3 linked regions of the Homo sapiens genome follow. The protein of the gene in region 3 interacts with the protein of the main gene of each other region in a pairwise test. Each region holds a gene or a part of one and is shown on either strand. Other genes may lie near its edges.

What was found. Proteins that work in one complex are often made in the same cells at the same time.
Region 1: the proteins of RNF24 (region 3) and NT5E interact in binary tests that used the Homo sapiens proteins (3 or more experiments, as listed by UniProt).
Region 2: the proteins of RNF24 (region 3) and ABHD5 interact in binary tests that used the Homo sapiens proteins (3 or more experiments, as listed by UniProt).

The regions. Positions count from the first base shown.
Region 1 is NC_000006.12:85,488,083-85,495,110, reverse strand, and holds part of NT5E (5'-nucleotidase isoform 1 preproprotein), read right to left. Parts: intron 5,618-7,028; coding exon 5,512-5,617; intron 4,604-5,511; coding exon 4,454-4,603; intron 3,135-4,453; coding exon 2,934-3,134; intron 1,271-2,933; coding exon 1,107-1,270; 3' UTR 1-1,106. UniProt on the Homo sapiens protein: Catalyzes the hydrolysis of nucleotide monophosphates, releasing inorganic phosphate and the corresponding nucleoside, with AMP being the preferred substrate. Shows a preference for ribonucleotide monophosphates over their equivalent deoxyribose forms.
Region 2 is NC_000003.12:43,714,938-43,721,965, forward strand, and holds part of ABHD5 (1-acylglycerol-3-phosphate O-acyltransferase ABHD5), read left to right. Parts: intron 1-9; coding exon 10-121; intron 122-2,733; coding exon 2,734-2,920; intron 2,921-3,505; coding exon 3,506-3,595; 3' UTR 3,596-7,028. UniProt on the Homo sapiens protein: Coenzyme A-dependent lysophosphatidic acid acyltransferase that catalyzes the transfer of an acyl group on a lysophosphatidic acid.
Region 3 is NC_000020.11:3,942,537-3,949,564, reverse strand, and holds part of RNF24 (RING finger protein 24), read left to right. Parts: intron 1-1,285; coding exon 1,286-1,328; intron 1,329-4,346; coding exon 4,347-4,388; intron 4,389-7,028. UniProt on the Homo sapiens protein: May play a role in TRPCs intracellular trafficking.

The sequences.
Region 1 (7,028 bases), on a different chromosome or scaffold from region 3:
TCCATAACTGGGTGTGTAGTATGAGTAGAATGAATTCAGTGCTAGCCTCTTGCTGGAGAGGGACAAGTGCAGGTTTAGAATTACAGCTTATGTTAGAAGGTTCTCTTCTCATGATACCTTCATGTTAGAAGAAAGAGGACAGAGGCAGAGCTGATGGAATCTCATAAAATAACAGCTAATGCCGTGTGTCAGGCACTATGCTTAACAAGTATCTGTTTAACATGTGTAAATGCTCTTTAGCTCTTGCTTTTCTATAATATAAAACAGTCCTGGAGTCCTGTTCTTCCCCTTCCTTTCTCTCGTGTCCTTTGACTGTCTTTTGCAGCCTCTGGCCTTTCTCATTATCTACTACAGCTTGCTACCTGACTCATCAAAGGCACATGGGTGTTGCAAGAGAGGATGGTATCCTGTGTTTATACCATTAAACTTGCTATTATAACAGGAGCTATAAAGTGAAAAAATAGAGACAAGAAATAAAGCAGAGATTTGTCATCCATGAGCTTGGGGCTATTGATAATTATGAAGAGAGGAGATATTAAGTATTCTGAACAGTAACTTGATATAGTTGAGAATGCTGGACTTGAGTTCAAAAGACCTAGGTCTAGGTCTTGGATCTGTCAGCATTAGCTGTATGGTCAAGTCAACCCTTTTTGAGCTTCAGTTTTTTCATCTGACAGGTGGGAAAAACATCTCTCTTTCCTACCAAAAATAAGTTGTGGATATCAAATGAGACAGTGTGCTTAAAACTTCCTTGTGAATGATAAAATTTTATGTAAACATAAGCTGTTTGATGGATTAGAAATGGATATGAAGAAGAAAAATATGGTTTAAAATTGTTAGTAAAATTTCATTAAAATTTGGACACGTAAACTTAACATAGTTGGCTTTCTCCTTATAGGGCCCTATGTTAATTTTTTTTCTAACTCACTAGGTTGCTGACCCTGAGTAATCATGTCTGTCTCTTCATTTTATAATGCTCTAACCTTCAGCTTCTAGGAGCCTGTAAAGATGGTTTTTGCTGTCACAAAGCCAGGTCCTAAAAGGCAGATTTGAATCTCACTTGAAAAAATGCAGTTTCACACATTAAAGGCAAGGAGAATTTTTGGCTATTGGTATAAAACAAAGATCACTGCCCAAAGTGAAAGAAATATTAAAGAAAAGCTTCCATGGCAGTGACTTCCTGTGGAAAACTTGATCCGACCTTCAACTGCTGGATAAATTACTTTCATTTTGGAGATATATGTAGAAACCACGTTGATATCTTGGTCACCTAGAAAAACATATACATTATTTTAACTACAGAAAAGGTAATTATCAATCAACAGTAAGGTAGTCCTTTGTAATTATAAAAGGGAAGCAATTTCATAAGCAGGGGTAAAGTGTCACAGAAGACAAGAACGCTAGTGATCATAAGTACAAAGAATTTGATTGCTTTTTCATGCTCCAGATGTAAAATGTGTCTGTTGTTCAATATTGGGTAATTGGGGGAAGTAGAGTTGCCTCAGCTCTGTGATGACTCTAGAAAGAGGTCATTGACATCATAGCCTTTGAACCACTCCAGAACAAGGGCATTAGGGAACTGGGTCAAGAGCAATTAGTTGAGAGATAAAACTGGCTTCCTTTTGTTTGCCTGCCCAATAATTATTTTCATGTAATTGATGATGGGACTTGGGGGATTTCCTTTACCAAAGAGAGGAGAGGATAAATGCTAATTGCCTATAGCTACAACAAACCCATGTTTGTTGGGAACCCATGTTCTGTTGGGAACCCAACAGAATTTTATTTTAAAAATATCACTCCAGTACTTAAGAACCCTTCTCTCTTCAGTGGTTTTCACCTCTGGGTGTACACTAGAATCACTGAAAAAGAGTTTAGCCCCAATCCAGTTAACTTAGAATCTCTTAAGAGCTGCGGCCGAGCCATTGGTATTTAATTTAAAATGCTCCTGAAGTGATTCTAATGTATAACCAGTGTTGAGAACGCTTAGGTCCAGGGCTTCCTTAGCCTTCTGCATGAGCTCCTCTCTCTAACATCCTTCAGTCTAGGCTTGAGTGGTGGACAGCTGATGGCTATCAGCCTCTTTGTCTCATGGGGCTTTTACGCCTGCCCTTCCATCTTCTGTCACGGAAGGGACAGAAGAAGCCAGCACCTTTCCTCCCAGGAAGGGCTGCCTCCTTTGGTCTGGTCCTGCCCTCCACGCTCCTTGGAATAAGTAGCTAAAATGACAGGTCCAGCATGATAAGACTGAGGAAGATCCTGGTGGAACTACCCAGAGATGCCAAGAAGCTGCTTGTGTGTCTTGTAAGCATGCTGGTCTCTGCCCTAGGAAGAGGAAGGGGAAGTGTGTCCTATGTCAGTGGTCTGTATGCACATAATGTGACTCTCAACAGAATTTCTAAAAGTGAGGCTGGCATATAATGTCCCTCAATGCTGCCAGAAGTACCAACTGACATCAAGTATGGTTATTCCTATGATTTGTACCACCAACCCACTGTGCTGAAAGGGCGGCGCTCACCCCATCCACTTCTACCTGACTGATTCACACAGAAACTTCTTCAAGAAAGAAAATTTAAATGATTTAATGTGATGGTTTTCCATATCCTAAAATTCCAGAGGTGTGATATTTCTGTTAATGCAAAACTCACTTATATTTCACAATTTAAATAGCTGCTTAGATGTAGTTAAAAGAATTTTAAAACATTTTTGATTTACAAATGTTTTGTCTCTGGGGTTGGATGAAGGCATGTGTGTGCTCGGGGATTGACAGGGTACATATTCCTCTCTGCTGTGCTGTGCTGCTGCTTTCCAACAAGCAAAGCAGGAGGGAGTCAGCAATACAGGGAGTCACTTTGCCCTCCTGGCACCACTAGTAGCTCCCCTTCTTGGCCCAATTTTGTTGTTCTTTAGAGAAAGGAAGAGACAGTCATGCTTACCAGAGTCATGTCTTAATAATTCATCTTTTATCATCTGGAACCCATCTCCACCATTGGCCAGGAAGTTTGGGAGGATCACCTTATATACCTCGTCCATTTTGAGAGGGTCATAACTGGGCACTCGACACTTGGTGCAAAGAACATCTAATTTGACTACTCTGTCTCCAGGTTTTCGGGAAAGATCATACACCACATGGATTCCTAGAAAAGAAATGAATCTGTTTTCACCAGATCCAAAGGGAGATTTCTGTTTCCTAAGGAATTTTGGCCAAACTCTACAATTGGGGCATGGGGCTGTGGTTTTTCCTTTGGTTTAAACCTGAGTGAAATTTTGTCAAGAGAATTGTGACATTGCAGCCACCCTTTATCCTTGAGTCCTTACAGGACATATGAGAACCACTGGAAGGAAAACCAGCTCTGGACCAGAATAGGCAAAGGGTGACTCTACATGGACAAAACCACATCTTTTTCTGTTTTTCCCTTAAAATGCTGAATTGGTCTACTAAATTGATTCAATGGCCTTAGAAAGTGAGAAACAGATCAGAGGCAGAGAGCATTTTACAATTTTGAAGACCATTAAATGGTAATCATTTGGGATTTGGTGACTTCCACAAGGCATAGAGCTATGCAGTGCTTTGCTAGAGCATCAGAAAACTGCTTTTCCCTCAACTCCCTTCTGGGAAAATGGAGGATGTTTGGGTTGCCCCATAGGCATTAGGACAGGGCCCCACTGCCTTCTGTAGCCCTTCAGTCTCAACAGCAATGTGTTCTGCAGAGGAAAACTCAGGAAAGCAATTCTATCTGTCAAGCGGGACCACAACCTAAGGTTAAAAAAATGAGGCCAGATTATGATTTCCAGGTAAAATAAGATTGCTTTTAAAGGATTAATTCACTGGACTGTGGAATTATTAACAAAAGTGTTTCAGAAGCCCTTGGCAATTTAGGAAGCATTTATTTCCATTCAACTTTCACTGCAGTCCATGAGATAAACAGGAAAGGTTTTCTCCCTGTGCCCAGAGGGGTTGAGAACTTGCCCCAGGTCACAGTGGGACTAGAACCAGGTGTTCAGGTATGTCTGTGCAGTAGGCTGCTCCTTCCAGGAATCATCCTGGTTAATACAGATTGGACAGCATTCCTTTAAATCTTGGCATGGTTCCAGGCAACGATGAGTAGAACAGAGGAGAGGATTTAAAAAAAAAATAATTGAATGCTTAAATAAGATTTTATTAGAAACTAGACCTCAAAGCAGGTGACCTGCTTAGAGGGCCCATCTGATGTCCAAATCAGACTTGGCAAATACTGCTTATTGCCAGGGCTTTGGGGCTTTGGGGCTTTGACCCCAACCTAATCTTAGTGGCTCTGAGAGTCCACAGCCATTAAAGGGTAAGGTATTGGTGTTGGGTCGGGAAAAATCCAAACCAGTTTGACCACAGGAATTTTGGTGAAGGGGAAGCTGAGCCAACCAGCAGGAAATGCCATGTCACTTTGGATGGGCCAGCCCTACAGGATGGGTGACTTACCGCCCACCTGCAGGAACTCTCCAGTGGACTGGCCGTAGCGGTGCACGCTATGCTCAAAGGCCTTCTTCAGGGTGGAACCTTTTAACTGGACTAGGTCAAATGTGCCTCCAAAGGGCAATACAGCAGCCAGGTTCTCCCAGGTAATTGTGCCTGAGGGTAGTCACAGATGAGGCAAGAAGGAAAATAGCTTGAGAAAATGCTTACACCATGACCAGTTTCCCTCAGCGCTGGGGGAAGAAATGAGGGGGACATGGGAAGCTTATAGAGCATCATTAGCTATGTCTAAGTGGTTCCTGACACTGAGGAAGGGAATGAGTTTAGGAGGCCTCTGGCCCTGCACTCCACCACTGGGCAAGATGGCGGGAGCTCACAAATGGCTGTGCCTCAGAAGTTCACCATGCTCAGTCTTAGATCTGCTAGCTTGGGGCTGGATCTCCAGTAGTTTGTTTTGCATTGTTCCGTTCCTCCAGACAAACAATGTGCCCCTGCAACCTGTCCCTGTTGTCTGACAATGGGATGCGTTTGGGGCCTTATACTGATACTGATTGGTTTTCACAGTAAATCAGGGAGGGCTACAAGAGTGTCTTGAGTATTTGTGTAGTTGATTTGTTTTGCCATATGATATAATCTTGGATATCTGTAAATATACTAAGGTAACATTTTAATCCAGTGGTATGTCTTTTTCAGGACAGAAGATTGGTGATTTTGTCTCTTTTCAGATGCCAAGGTGGTGACTGTTGTTATTTTGCATAAATCAGAAACAACTAGTATAGCTTTGTAAGTCAGAAATTCAGACCAAGTTTGAGTTCCACTAACCTTACCTGCAGCTTCTGTGTGTGAATACATATAAGAACACACAAGCTTGTGTGTGTCCTTCAGGCTAGGTTTTAGACTTTAATAATGGCTAACCCTAATTTAAAGGACTGACATTCTGGTACATGGCTGGCAGCAGAGATGAACTGAGGCTGCACATGGGTGTGTTCAGGGCAAGAACCATAACAGAAAAGGAGATCAGAGAGAGAACATGACACACTGAGGAGCTGGGCCTGGGAGCATACCATTGTTGCGTTCATCAATGGGCGACCGGATACCACCTCCATTTAAAATGCACATGGATACGTGGTTCCAGAACATTTCATCCGTGTGTCTCAGGTTGTTGTTAATCTGCAACAGTAGCACAGATTTACACTAGTTACTCTGGCTCTTCTTCCTTAGGATCAGCTCCAGGAATCTGGTTAGCTCTAGTGAGGAAATAAAGCTGCTTTTCACCTGCTGCTGTGTTCCCAGGGATCTCTCAACTATAATTAGAACTAATTTTATGCTCCCAGAAGTAAAAATATACTGTTACCAGTCCATGTCAAACTCTTATTTCCCCCTCCTAAAACTCCCATACTGTCAGGCCAGGTGGCCTTAGCAAAATGGTCTCTCGGTTGTAGCCCTGGTGTCGGGACTGGGCCTCCCATGCAAGGTGGCCTGCAGAGTCACTCCTGCACAGGCTTCTCCAGGGCAGGCCATGCCCTCTGCCTGATTCTGAGGGCTTGGCCCTAGAGCCTGCTCAACACCAGACCTCATGCCAAAGAGAACCTGGCCTCCACGTCTATGTCTGCAGCTGATTCCCAAGTTGGCAATTTTGGAAAGACAGAGACAGCCTTTTGAAGCTGGGGAGAATCACATCCATTCTTACTTTTATTTTACAAAATATATGTTTAGTTATAAGAAATAAAATGAATATATTCTCATTTAGGAGACAAAAAGCCGAAAAAAAAAAAAAAAAAAGGCCAGGCATAGTGGCTCACACCTGTAAATCCCAGCACTTTGGGAGGCTGTGGCAGGTGGATCACCTAAGGTCAGGAGTTCGAGACCAGTCTAGCCAACATGGTGAAACCCCGTCTCTACTAAAGATACAAAAATTAGCTGGGTGTGGTAGTGGACACCTCTAATCCCAGCTACTTGGGAGGCTGAAGCAGGAGAATCGCTTGAACCCAAGGGACGGAGGTTGCAGTGAGCTGAGATCATGCCACTGCACTCCAGCCTGGGCGACAGAGCAAGACTCAGTCTCAATAAATAAATAAATTAATTAATTAAATAAATAAATAAATAAAAAGCAAAAGCTCTCCTTTGTCCTAGCCTCTTTAACAGAGTGGATAAGCACTGCCAACAGCCTGGGTTGTTTCCCTCCAGACTTCTCTTAACATTTATATACCAGCTTCTCCTTAACTACTTCTCTGGCATTGACTGCATGATGCTGAGGAGACATCATGAGTCTGGTCTTGGCATGAGCATGATTGTTGTCATTTACACGGCAAACATTTATCGAGTGCAGTTGTATCCTGGGCACTGGGCAATGCATGCCAAGCACTGACAGAAATGACTTCCCTGGGTGCAGGCTGTGAGCCCATGGAAGTAGTAGTCCGACATAGGAGACCTTGGCTCAGTAAGGCCCCCAGAGAGCTACCATGGCCATTCCGCCTGGTGACAAGTAGACGGGCTTGTTCTTCATACCTGGTCTTGCTCAGCCATAGGACTTGTTATTACCATTAAAACTGTGTGTTGTCTTTCTGTGCCTGTGAAAGAG
Region 2 (7,028 bases), on a different chromosome or scaffold from region 3:
GTTAAATAGGTTTAAGTCTAGTGCAGCGTTTAAGGCCTGATTTCAAACGAAAGTATTCTTCAATGTTCGAAGACGATACTGTGACAGAATACATCTACCACTGTAATGTGCAGACTCCAAGGTGAGGGTTAGGATTCTCAATTCACTCTGTGTGTGTGTGTGTGTGTGTGTGTGTGTGTGTGTTTGTGTGTGTTTTAGACTATTTTTTTTAAAACTATTTATTTATTTATTTATTCATTCAATACGGGGTTTCGCTCTTGTCACCCAGGCTGGAGGGCAATGGTGCGATCTTGGCTCACCACAACCTCCGCGTCCTGGGTTCAAGCAATTCTCCTGCTTCAGCCTCCTGAGTAGCTGGGATTACAGGCATGTGCCACCACGCCCGGCTAATTATTTTGTATTTTTAGTAGAGACGGGGTTTCTCCATGTTGGTCAGGCTGGTCTTGAACTTCTGACCCCAGGTCATCTGCCCGCCTCTGCCTCCCAAAATGTTGGGATTACAGGTGTGAGCCACCGTGCCCGGCCTTTGTTTAAAATATATCAGTGGTCCAGAAGATTTGTATCAGTAGTTAAATGACTGAATTTAAAAGGACAAGTGTCTAATACATTTTATTTTACTCATCTATTCTTAGAGTACCCACTGTATAAAACATTGTGCTGAGTTCTGATGGGGGATTAAGAAGTAACATGTTCACTCTTCCCTCAAAGTTCTCATGAACATGTTGAGAAAGTCTTGGTCTTGGGCATCTCCAAGAGATGGTTTGAGTTGAGAGTTGAAGAATTTCACATAAAGAAGTATTTCCCAAACTGAGTATGAATGTTTCAAAAAAAGAAAAAAGGGTGCTGGATTAAACAAAAGTAAATGATTGTCTATACTATGAATCCTCTTAGAACCTTTACTATACCGAAGGGTATTGAATCTCCCAAGTGAATGGGAGATGCTATGTGTATTTTTCAAGTTCATTTGATGATTGTACTCCTGAACAACTCTAAAGATCTGTAGGTCAGCATTAGAAATGCAGCTGCAGAGGGTGAGGAGTAAGTGAGGGATTCTGCATGTATTTTGACAGTGATTAGAAGGAGAGAGAGAGAATGGGGCATAGTAGCAGAGGGAGCAAGAGGGCCAAATGTATGTTTTAAAAATATGACTTATGGATGTTGGGTGAAAAGTACCAGTGGAGAAAACAGAGCCTGAAGATAGTGGGGGGCTAGGAGGAGGCCGAATGATAAGGCCCTAGAGTTTCTAGGAAGAGCATCAAGAATAGAGTGCAAAGATGAGAGCTGCAGTTCTCATGCTATGTTGTGTACTGGAATTATTGGGGGTGCTTGTTGAAATGTGACTCCTGAGGTTTGTTTCTAAGACTAATATTAGCATTTCTGGGCTGCATCTCTAACAAATACTCTGGTGATTCTGTATAGGTGAACTATGGAGCACACTTTAAGACAGAGAAGTGGTATCTCATCCTTTCTAAGACTGAGGTTTGGATGAAAGGCTAAGAGGCGAGATGCAGAGACAGCCTCCCTCTCTTTTATTTCCTCCCTCACTTTTGGCAGAAAATATGTACACCTACTTTATTAAAAAGATTGAGGCCATGGTAGCTATTTATAGGTAGCTGTAGCCTCAGTCTTTTTAATAAAGTAGGTTAGAGGTTCTCTGCCAAGAGTGAGGGAGGCTAGAGGTTCAAGGTCTTCAAGAGATTGAGGTTTTGTGAATTGCTAGGCAGTCAGGTTTGGTGGATTAGGTCTACACACTTCCAACAGTTTTTTTTAGGGGTCTTCCCCGGGAACATCATTCATTTTCCTGCATGGCGTAAGTTTTACTCTTCACGTACTCTTATTTCATGATTACATGTGTTCGTGTAGTCCTAGTTTGTTACTTTGATTGTAGTGAGACTTGAATTCTTCATAAAAGGCAAGTTAGAATGATGTCTGGTTTTGTAAGAATAGCAGAAGGGACCAGGCGTGGTACTCACGCCTGTAATCCCAGCACTTTGGGAGGCCGAGGCGGGCAGATCACAAGGTCAGGAGTTTGAGACCAGCCTGACCAACATGGTGAAACCCCGTCTCTACTGAAAATACAAAAATTAGCTGGGCATGGTGGTGCGTGCCTGTAATCCCAGCTACTCAGGAGGCTGAGGCAGGAGAATTGCTTGAACCCGGGAGGCAGAGGCTGCAGTGAGCTGAGACTGTGCGTGCAGCTGCACTCCAGCCTAGGCAACAGAGCTAGACTCCATCTCAAAAAAAACAAAAAAAACAAAAAAAAAAAATGAATAGCAGAAGTGACAGCAAGATAGACCTATCCTGAGAGCTTGCAAGAATATATTGTCTGAGTTTCTTCTTAACTTGGTAATGGTTTTAGCATTGCAGGTGAAACGCTGGTGCCATGAACCTGGGGATAAGCTACCTTCTACATCAGTTTAAATAAGGACAAAAAAACATATTTTTAACTATCTCCACAATAAATAATTTAATGATAGAAAATTAGGGTTGTACATTTTGGTTTACAAGAAAACTTTTTTAAAAATCAGCTGGAGTATACAACAGCCTTGCTTATCTAACAGTGATCTGTGAGATTTGTTCCTTACACTGTCTCATAAATTATTTTCTATTTAAGCTGAGGTTTTTCTTAGGTGCTGGAAAAGCTAAATATGAATGTGTTTTGATAGAAGTGACAGTGCAATGCATACTCATTCCCAAAAATCATACATCGTGATTTTCTCCTTGCCGTTAAAGTGGTGAGACAGCTTTCAAGAATATGACTATTCCTTATGGATGGGCAAAAAGGCCAATGCTCCAGCGAATTGGTAAAATGCACCCTGACATTCCAGTTTCAGTGATCTTTGGCGCCCGATCCTGCATAGATGGCAATTCTGGCACCAGCATCCAGTCCTTACGACCACATTCATATGTGAAGACAATAGTAAGTGTGTGGCTTGATTTGGGTTTTTAGGTATAGGTGAGGTCCGTTTTATTATCTCCCTTAAAAGAGGTTTTAGGTCATCCTCGTGTTGCAGGTCATCTGAGCCATACCTGCAGCCTCAGTCGGGGACGTGATACCACCTGTGATGGGTGCAGGGTTTGGCCTGCACACATCTTCATGTCCAAACCGTGAACTACCTTTCTGAATGACTTTTCCTGTCCCTAGAGCCACAGCATTAGGAGAGATGGACAGAGGGATTGGTCCAGTAGCACTTCAAGTAATTCCCACCTCACAAGGCAGCACACTCTCACTTTTTTCAGTTTCTCTGTTGGCACTTTTATTAGTGGTCAATTTAGTGTTTTTTGCATATTAAAATTTTATTGAGATTCAGTAGATTTTTCTATTCTCAGATCCTTTTAATGGATATACTTAATAGTTACTATAGATTATTGTTATTTTTTAATCACGTGTTTTATTTAAATACAGTGGCTCTCACTTTTATTACTAAGTGTCTTTGCTTATATATCATTCTGTTTTATTAAATGCTTTTACTCACTAACTGTCTGAATGCTTTTCCTTATCCAGGCTATTCTTGGGGCAGGACATTATGTATATGCAGATCAACCAGAAGAATTCAACCAGAAAGTAAAGGAGATCTGCGACACTGTGGACTGAACACACTGAAGCTCTGATGGGAAAACCTGGTGACTGATATAGTTGTTCAGCAATAATTCATAGTCTGTGATGAAGAGTAGTGAATACAACACACAACCAGGCAGCCTTCTTGACTATACTTTGCACATGTTTTCTTTAGGAATTCACTCACACATTTAAACCAGTTAGTGCCTTCTAGAAGAATGGCTTTCCTTTCTCCTACACAAAATTGAAATATACAAGTCTCTAAATATAATACCTTTAAATAAAAGGTTATTTGTCCCTCTGATGTACTGAAAAACTGTAATTTTTCAGCTGAAAATTTTTTAATCTAACTTTGCTAGTTATTTTTATATTGCAATCTATATTACCAATTTAGGAAGTGATTTCTGAGTCTCTTACACTGTAAAGGTGCACTTTATTTTCTTTGTCTTCCCCATCATGTATTTATTGTGTCTTGATAACTGATATTAATCTAAATTCAATGTGTTTTTATGTAAAAATTTGTCAGTTGTTTAGAATATTTCACTTTGTTTTTGAAACGGAGTGACAAGGCAGATTTTTGGTTAGAGGACGGGAGTTGATCACTATCATTACTTTTTCTAGTTTACCTGTTTTTTATATTTAAGGCTGCTAAGCCATGTTCAGCATTTTAAATGTGGTCTATCCTGACATACAGTGTATAACAACATAACTCCTTGGAACCTCCTATGTGTGGTATAATTCTACTCTTCCAAGGAACATGACTTCAATACTTTCAGTGATTCAGGTACTGAAAAGCCTTACCTAAAAGGCTGTTCTTTGTTTCCCCCTTTCATACTATTCTTTTCCATGACCCAGGATGCAGCAAATGAAACAGATTTCTTCTCTTAAGGGGATATTAAGACTGTTACTTCCTAGTAAGCCAAGTAATACCATATTTTTATTAACATCTAACTTTTGTAGATGGGTGCTAAAATTGCATACATTTTAACCACTAAAATAGAAAAACAAGTGGTGCTATTATGTCTCATGGCACCAGAAATGAGCTAGCACTTGGGTTTGTTGTTGCTGTTGTTTATTAAGAGTATTGTGTTAATTAAATCATTACATACTTGAAGTTATATTACAAAAATTCTAGAAGGTTGATTGAACTATTTTTTTAGGAACTACCATCAAGTGTAGCATTTTCTTGCAGTTTTAAAATGAGGAAAACTTCTTTGAAACTGTGAAATGCTCCATGTGGTAACTGGCTGCTGAGAAAACCCTTCACCAAAAAAATAAATAAAAATTGAATAGGATTGTCATCAAGAAGGCATCTTTCGCTAACGTTGCTTGTCTAGGAGAAAGGTAGCTATGTAAATAAAAACAGTGAACTAGAGCAAATAGTGGTTTAATGGTTTTGTTATTGCATTTTTAAAATGGTTAATTAGGGAATTTGTAGTTGTTAGGAAATGTAAGGTTGTGTCACTGTTGATTAACTGCCAGAAAGACTGAATGTTCTATTTTCAACATTTCTCCCCTATAAAAGAATAGACAAATTATACTGAAGCATGATATAAACATCTTCCCAATGAACAATTTGTCTCACTTGTCAGATTAACTAGGTTAGTGCAGGAAGCAACATGAGCGCCAAGATGTGTTGTCTGATTTCTCTACCTTAAGAACAATAATAGTCTTTTTAGTTAGTATTTTGGATGGCCAGGTTTCAAACCTGTATGTGGTACAAATAATTTGGGTAATATTTTTGTATTTTTGTTTTACACACTCTCTAATCTCAATTATCCTTTGCTGGGAGAATGACAGGTTTCACTTATACAGGAAGGTTTTTGCACAGGAAATTTGGTCCCAGCCCTTGGAAGGAAGAAGTTCCTTCGTTTACTTAGTGAATGGAGTTTCTGGCCGCAGATGTGCCAAGTGATTGAAGAAAGATATACCCCAATATCAAGTGATAATTTATTTTCCTACAGACTGAATTTGCTTTATTTGAAAGATGTTGTAACTCTTTTTAAAGTTAGATTTTACCCTGAGGTATAGTATATGTAATTTTGTGAAGATTGAGCTGGAAGGGAAGTTCACAATCCTCACATTTAAAAAAATATAGTGGGTGCTAAATGTTTTCTTAAAAATCTAGTACAGCATTTGATCTTTGTTATGCACAGCATACTTTTATTTTACAGAATAAATTTTCCTGTGATAGTCACAACAAGACAGCTGTATAGTTTCTTGAGTCTTTTGTATGGACCAGTCTCTGTATAATAGTTAACTACAGGACTGTGGATCCAGCAAATGTTCAGTAAATGCTGCTGTTGTTCTTAGGGAAGGCTACTCTGGGTGTTGTGGCCGCCATACATGGCTTTACCTGGGTCCATGCATTCCCTTAAGATGACTTCTGTTTTCTTCTTTTTTCTTCTGATTTTCCAAAAAAAAAAAAGCCTTGCCTAAGGTTGGTTTTAGAATATGATTTGCAGAACACTTTTGAAATGTCTTCATTCATATATGTAATATATATTTATACTTAAAGGGCCATACGCGATTTCAATAAAACAAGAAGTACTGGAAAGAATAAACAAAAATAGCCAGAAGATGCCTAGAAAAGAACAATGTGGAAGGAGGGATAACCCTATTAAATATTATAACATAATGTTTACAATATGAGAAAGTCTAGGAATTTAGTACATGATAAAGCATCTCATTCAGAGAAAAAGGCTTTAAAAATGGTGTTGAGAGAAGTGTGGTTAACCATTTGGAAAAAAAAATAAAATTGAATCGATTTCTCACAGGATACACAGGATAAAATCTGAATAGAACAAAGACCCAATTTTTAAAATGAAACCCTCTTTCTAACTAGAAGAAAACATAGATGAATTATTGTATAATCTGACAGTGAGAAAAACTTTCCTAGGACTGAAAATTCAGAAGCAATAAAAAGAGAAGTCTATAGAAGAATTTTCAGCCAGATGGAATGGCTCATGGCTGTAATCCCAGCATTTTGGGAGGCTGAGGCAGAAGGACTGCTTGAGACCAGGAATTCAAAACCAACCTGGGCAACCTAGTAGGACTGGCTCTACCAAAAAAAAAAAAAAAAAAAAATTAAGTACCTGGCCTGGGTTCCACCTACTTGGGAGGCTGAGGTAGGAGGACTGTGAGCCCAGGAGTTTGAGGATGCAGTAAGCCACTGCACTCCAGCCTGGGTGACAGAGAAGAAAAAAGATTTTTTTGGATAGCTGAAAATATTTGCAGCATTTATCACAGAGGGCTAATTGTAGCCCTATATATGAAGAATTTTAAACTATGAGAAGAACCCGAAGAATAGGCAAAAGGATGTGAACAGACAGTTAACAGAAAATAGAATGCAAATGGTCTTTAAACATACAAGGATATGCATAAAAAGACAAATGCAAAATAAAATAAAATAATGGAAATACCTTTCTTACCTGTGAGATTGGGGAAAATCCAAGTTAGGCAATGCACT
Region 3 (7,028 bases):
CCACAGGCCACACGCCACCATGCCCAGCTAATTGTATTTTTTGTACAGATGAGGTTTTGCCTTATTGCCCAGGCTGGTCTCGAACTCCTGGGCTCAAGCGATCCTCCTGCCTCAGCCTCCCAAAGTGCTGGGATTACAGGCATGAGCCACTGTGTCCGGCCAGGGTGAGTACTTTTATTTTTTTCAAGACAAAGTCTCACTATGTCACCCAGGCTGGAGTGCAGTGGCATGATCTCGGCTCACTGCAACCTCCGCCTCCTGGGTTCAAGTGATTCTCCTGCCTCAGCCTCCCAAGTAGCTGGGATTACAGGCATGTGCCACTATGCCTGGCTAATTTTTGTATTTTTAGTAGATTCGGGGTTTCTCCCTGTTGACCAGGCTGGTCTCAAACTCTTGACCTCAGGCCATCCGCCTGCCGCGGCCTCCCAAAGTGCTAGGATTACAGGCGTGAGCCACGGTGCCCAGCCTCGGTGTGAGTACTTTGAACCAGCAGTTCTACTCCCGGGTATATACTTAACAGAAATGAGTATATATGTCCACTAAAAGACATGTAGAATTTGTGTATCAGCTTTAATAATAGCCTCAAACAGGAAGTAATTAAATATTCATCAGCAGTAAAATGGATAAATAAATGGTATTATATTCATACAATGGAATACTGTATGTCAGTCAGAAAGACAATTACTACAACAATATGGAAGAATCTCACAAGGCATTGTAGACTGAAAGAAACCAAACACAAAAGAGTATATACCAAACGATCCATTTACATGAAGTTCAAAAACAGGCATAATTAATCTACAGTGTTAGAAATCAGGATAGTGCTACCTCTGGGGCATGGATATTGATTAGGAAGGATCATTTTAGAGGGCTCAGGTGTGCTGGAAATGTACCATGTCTTGATATGAGCAACAGTTATCCTGGTATGTACATTTTTTAAGATTTTGAGCTGTATACTTAAGGTTTTTATACTTCATTGGATGTATGTTATACTTAAATTTTTTCTAATTAAGAAAAAATATAAATATTATTGAAATAAGTAGACTGTCGGTATAAAAAGAATTGAGTCATCTTACGTTTGGGTAACATTTCATGGTTCCCTGGGCACTTTCACATAGCATGTTAAGAGATACATCATTTGGGTGTATTTCAGGGTAAAGATTCTAATTTATATCATTTGAGCCATAAATGTTATAAATTAATACCAAAATCAGCAACTTTTTATTTTTCTTCAAGTTACTATGTTGGAAATCTCAATATTGCATTACTAATTTCTGTCTTTTAGGCTAAGACATCAAGCACACAAAGAATTTTATGCCTACAAACAGGTGAGAAATTTAATTCAGATTGGCTTTGATTTTTTTTTTCCCCCCAAAAAACTGAGAACTCTGATTTCCACTCATACGTTAAACTGGGACTGAATTTACTTGTGTTCATTTTAGCATCTCACTGCCAATTTGCAGTATAATATATCAACTTCATTTTCTTAAGTATTCTTCTCTTCTTTTTTTTTTTTTTGAGACGGAGTTTCGCTCTTGTTGCCCAGGCTGGAGTGCAATGGCGTGATCTCGGCTCACAGCAACCTCCGCCTTCCAGGTTCAAGCTATTCTCCTGCCTCAGCCTCCCAAGTAGCTGGGATTACAGGCATGCGCCACCACGCCTGGCTAATTTTGTATTTTTAGTAGAGACGGGGTTTCTCCATGTTGGTCAGGCTGGTCTCGAACTCTGGACCTCAGGTGATCCGCCCGCCTCGGCCTCCCAAAGTGCTGGGATTACAGGCGTGAGCCACTGTGCCCAGCTTTTCTCTTCTTTTGTAAGCATTACTTGAAGCTGTAGAAAGTTCAGATGATATAATTTAACAGGAAACTTGAGCCAACAGATTGCTAAAGAGAAATGCTATAGCTTGTAATTCTTAAAGTTACTGTCGACTTAATGGAGTTCTGAGATACCATTAAGTGAAATTTTTCCTTCCTTCTTTATTAGAAGACATAGCAGTTCCTCGGAGGTGAGCGACCAGCTGTGTTACAGTGATCTCATCTACTCCCTTTTGTACTTTAAATGTTAGCTCATATTATCCACTAGAAGTCTGCAAACTTGGATCATAGCTGTCAATACCTAGTCCTTCACTGATTTTGTCTTTAAGTTAATACACTTATCTTTTCTCAAAGGCCAAGTAAAATTATTTTTTTCTTCCAAACAGGGGGCCTAGATTTTCCTTTGGCTCTAAGCATGAAATTCTTAATTTTTGTTACCCTTAGCTTTCTTCTTGGGTACAGGGGAGCTTCAGCTTATTTGAGTCTTTAACCTTGCTGACGCTGATGTTATGGAACTGTAACACTTCAGAACTGCGTATCTTGTTTTTGTTTGTTTTTGAGACGGAGTCTCGCTCTGTCGCCAGGCTGGAGTGCAATGGCAAGATCTCAGCTCAATGCAACCTCCGCCTCCCGGGTTCAAGTGATCTCCTGCCTCAGCCTCCCAAGTAGCTGGGACGACAGCCATCTATCTGCCACAACGCCCAGCTAATTTTTGTATTTTTAGTAGAGACAGGATTTCACCATGTTGGCCAGGATGGTCTTGATCTCTTGACCTCGTGATCCACCCACCTCGGCCTCCCAAAGTGCCAGGATTACAGGTGTGAGCCACCGCGCCCAGCCAGGACTGCTTATCTTTCTGTTCATCTTTCGTCCATGTATGTTTGAAATCTGAGCTCACTGGCACATTCCCTAGATGGACATACTGATGTCCTTAGGTAACCCCACACTCTTACAGGTCTCATGTGGGATCCAAAATCAGAGTTGAGTATTTTAGTTTTCTAAATGAATGAATCTTTTTGTCTCAGTCCTATCATAATCTTTTTTTTTTTTTTTTTTTGACGGGGTCTCTGTCACCCAGACTGGAGTGCAGTGGCATGATCACAGCTCACTGCAGCCTTGACCTCCCTGGGCTCAGGTGATCCTCCCACCTTAGCTGAGTGTGGTGGCATGCATAGCTGGGGCTACAGGCGCACACCACCACCCCCGGCTAATTTTTGTACTTTTTGTAGAGATGGGGTCTCCCCATGTTGCCCAGACTCCTATCATAATCTGTTTTGTTTTGTTTTGTTTTGTTTTGAGACAGGGTCTCGCTTCTGTCACGCAGGCTGGAGTGCAGTGGTGCAATCTCAGCTCACTGCAACCTCTGCCTCCTGGGCTCAGGTGAGCCTCCCAAGTAGCAGGGATTACAGGCGTGCACCACCACACCTGGCTAATTTTTGTATTTTTTGTAGAGACAGGGTTTTGCCATGTTGCCTAGGCTGGTCTTAAACTCCTGGGATCAAGCAGTCCGCCCACCTCGGCCTCCCAAAGTGCTGGGATTGCAGGCATGAGCTACCGTGCCTGGCCACGTATTATAATCTTGACAGCTTACAAGATATTTGTATGTAGGCTAACTAGAAAGTAAAATTGGCCTTTGCAGTCATTTAAGTGAAATTGACTGATAAAACTAGACAAGTCACAAGACATACAGTAAATTTGATCTTTAAAATATACTGGATAGGAAATTTAGTATATCCCTGTGAGGCCTTATAGTAGCTTCTGGTGTGATTTCTGAAAACAGGATTTACCCTCAAATCCATTTTTAGTTCAGGAATGTAAGACACCAAAATTTAGAGATTTTCCCTCAAATTTTACTTGCCTATTTTCTTCACTTTAAGATGAAATATAACTCTAATAAGCTATATTTAGTCTCAGAGTTTTTTCTTAAATAGTAAACTTCCTTCTTATCACTTGGCATTCATTTTAACTACTGTCTGGTCACCACGGAGTCAAAACTTTCAAAATTAAGATTGACTTACTTTTTTTTTTTTTTTTTGAGACGGAGTTTCGCTCTTGTTGCCCAGGCTAGAGTGCAATGGCACGATCTCGGCTCACTGCAACTTCCGCCTCCTGGGTTCAAGTGAATCTCCTGCCTCAGCCTGCCGAGTAGCTGGGATTATAGGCAGGCGCCACCACATCCAGCTAATTTTTGTATTTTTAGTAGAGACAGGGTTTCACTATGTTGACCAGGCTGGTCTCAAACTCCTGACCTCAGGCGACCCACCCGCCTTGGCATCCCAAAGTGCTGGGATTACAGGTGTGAGCCACTATGCTCGGCCAAAATTCCTTTTTTAGGAGAATATTGCATCATTGCTCAAGTTAAAAAAATGTTGCTAAAATGATCTGTCTCAAACTGTAAAAGAAATTCCCTTCAATATTGAATATGAGGGAAATGAGCCATATATACAAAAGAAAAATATTTGAGAATATAATGAGAAATATTTAAAGTTACAGATTTAAATGGGCATAAGAACATACTTTTTTGTCTTACAGGTTATATTAAAAGAGAAAGTAAAAGAATTGAATTTACATGAGGTAAGTTGATGATAAGTAAATCCTCTTGAGCCATTTTCTAGTAGCAGTGGTATGCTGTGGTATGTTTAAACACTTTTATTCTCAGTAGTTGAAAAAAATAGGCTTATTTTGATTGGGGTAATAGAATATTTCAGGGTGAGGTCACATAAAAATCAATTGTGTGAAGGCTTTACGAGAGTAATATAACTCATACTTTTAATAGTGATGACACCATTATAAAATTTCATAGCAGTAGGGATGCTGCTTGCCGTCCATGCTGTATGAATAGGAAACAGATACGTTAGTTTTTCTACTCAAGGTGAGTATGTACTAATTTCCCCATTGAAAATGTTCCCAATATTTCTTTCTTACCAATGGTACAAAAAAGAGAGCAGTTATCTCATGGGGGTAGGGATTGAAGAAGGTAAGACATACGGAACAGGGGAAGAACACACAGGTAGCGATATGAATCCTTGGGATTGTTTAGCTCTTCGGTTGCATGGTTGGGACATAGGTGCTTTGTAACTTAAGTACAAACTTGGGTGTGTATATCCTGCTGTATACATTAAGATACATAGCCTATAAGAATTCTTTTTCATTCTATTTCTTGTGTTGCCTCTGACTACAAACTTTCAGAATTTTTATTTTTTATCACCCTTTCCTTCTCCCTTTCTGGGTTTTCTAATTGGTGTTTAAAGCAAGGACTTGAAAAGCTGTGTGTTGTAATAGCAGTGTCGCATATAGCCTAGCTGTGGTGAAGCTAAATTGCCAGTCTCTTCAAAGAAAGTTAATTTGTTAGGTTTTTTGAATCATAATAAAAATAATCATATTATTGTTAAATATTTTGAAATCATCTATTGGTCCTTTGCTCTTTCTGCATATTTTTCATCAAAGAATTGATATGTTTCTGTTTAATGGCATTTTAGACCTAGCCTTGGATTAAACTGAAGCATTAATTACTGTTTGATTTTTTTTTTTTTTTTTTTTTGAGACGGGGTCTTACTCTGTCATCCAGGCTGGAGTGCAATGGTGCAATCTCCGCTCACTACAAACTCCGCCTCCTGGGCTCAAGCGATTCTCCTGCTTCAGCCTGTCGAGTAGCTAGGATTATAGGCATGCGCCACCACACCCAGCTAATTTTTGTATTTTTAGTAGAGACGGGGTTTCACCATGTTGGCCAGGCTGGTCTTGAACTCCTGACCTCACGTAATCCACCCACCTCGGCCTCCCAAAGTGCTGGGATTACAAGCGTGAGCCACGGCAGCCGGCCACTGTTTGATTTTTTACTTTTCCTAGAAGTTAATTTTGACACATGGCCAAAATTAACATGAAATAATAAAAGTGGTCTGTTTCCCATTTGGAGTCTTTTTGATGACCGTAAATGAAAAGATTAAATTTTTACCAGATTAATCCAGAACAGAAGTCTTCCTTACTGGTGTGACCTGTTAGTTTAGAAACTTTGTCCTGAATAAATACATTGTGTGTTGCATCAGTATGTATCATAGTTAGTATCCAACTACACCCACCAATTCCTGTTTCGCTGGTCATTTGTATCTAGTCTTGGATTTTTTTCACCATAGTATCCCCAGCTTTGGTTATGGTGAGTTGCTTTCTTCATTGAAATTCTTTTGCACCTTTTTCAAAAATCAAATAGCCATATTTTTTGTGACTGTATTTCTGGATTCTCCATTATATTCTCTTGATTTGTGTGCCTGTTTCTTCATCAGTACCACACTGTCTTGATTATTAATAGCTTTATAGTAAATCTTAAAATCAGGCAGTGTGATTCTTCCAACCTCATTCTTTTCCAAAATTGTTTTAGCTAGTCTGGTTCCTTGACCCTTCCATGTAAATTGTAGCATCAGCTCATCTGTATCCACAAAAAAAAAAAAAAAATCCTGCTGGGATTTTGATTTATATTGCATTAACTCTATAAATGTGTTTGGAGAGAATTGACCTTTACCATGGTGAGTCTTCTGACCTGTGAATACATTATGTCTATTTATTTATTTGAAGCTCTGTTGTTAGTTGTATACACATTGAATATCTTCTTGGTGAACTGACCCTTTTGTCAAGGTCTCTCGCCGGGCTGGGTGGCTCACACCTATAATCCCAGCACTTTGGGAGGCCAAGGCAGGAGGATCACCTGTGGTCAGGAGTTCAAGACCAGCCTGGCCAACATGGTGAAACTCCATCTCTACCAAAAATACAAAAATGAGCCAGGCGCGGTGATGGACACCTGTAATCCCAGCTACTCGGAAGGCTAAGGTAGGAGAATCACTTGAACCTGGAGGCAGAGGTTGCAGTGAGCTGAGATCGTGCCATTGCACGCCAGCATGGGCAACAAGAATGAAACACTATCTCAAAAAAAAAAAAAAACTGTCTTCATCCCAGGTAAATTCCTTTGCTTTGAAATATTTGTCCAGGCCAGGCGCGGTGGCTCACGCCTGTAATCCCAGCACTTTGGGAGGCCGAGGCAGGCGGATCACAGGGTCAGGAGATCGAGACCATCCTGGCTAACATGGTGAAACCCCGTCTCTACTAAAAATACAAAAAAATTAGCCGGGCGTGGTGGTGGGTGCCTGTAGTCCCAGCTACTCAGGAGGCTGAGGCAGGAGAATGGCATGAACCTGGGAGGCGGAGCTTGCAGTGAGCTGAGAT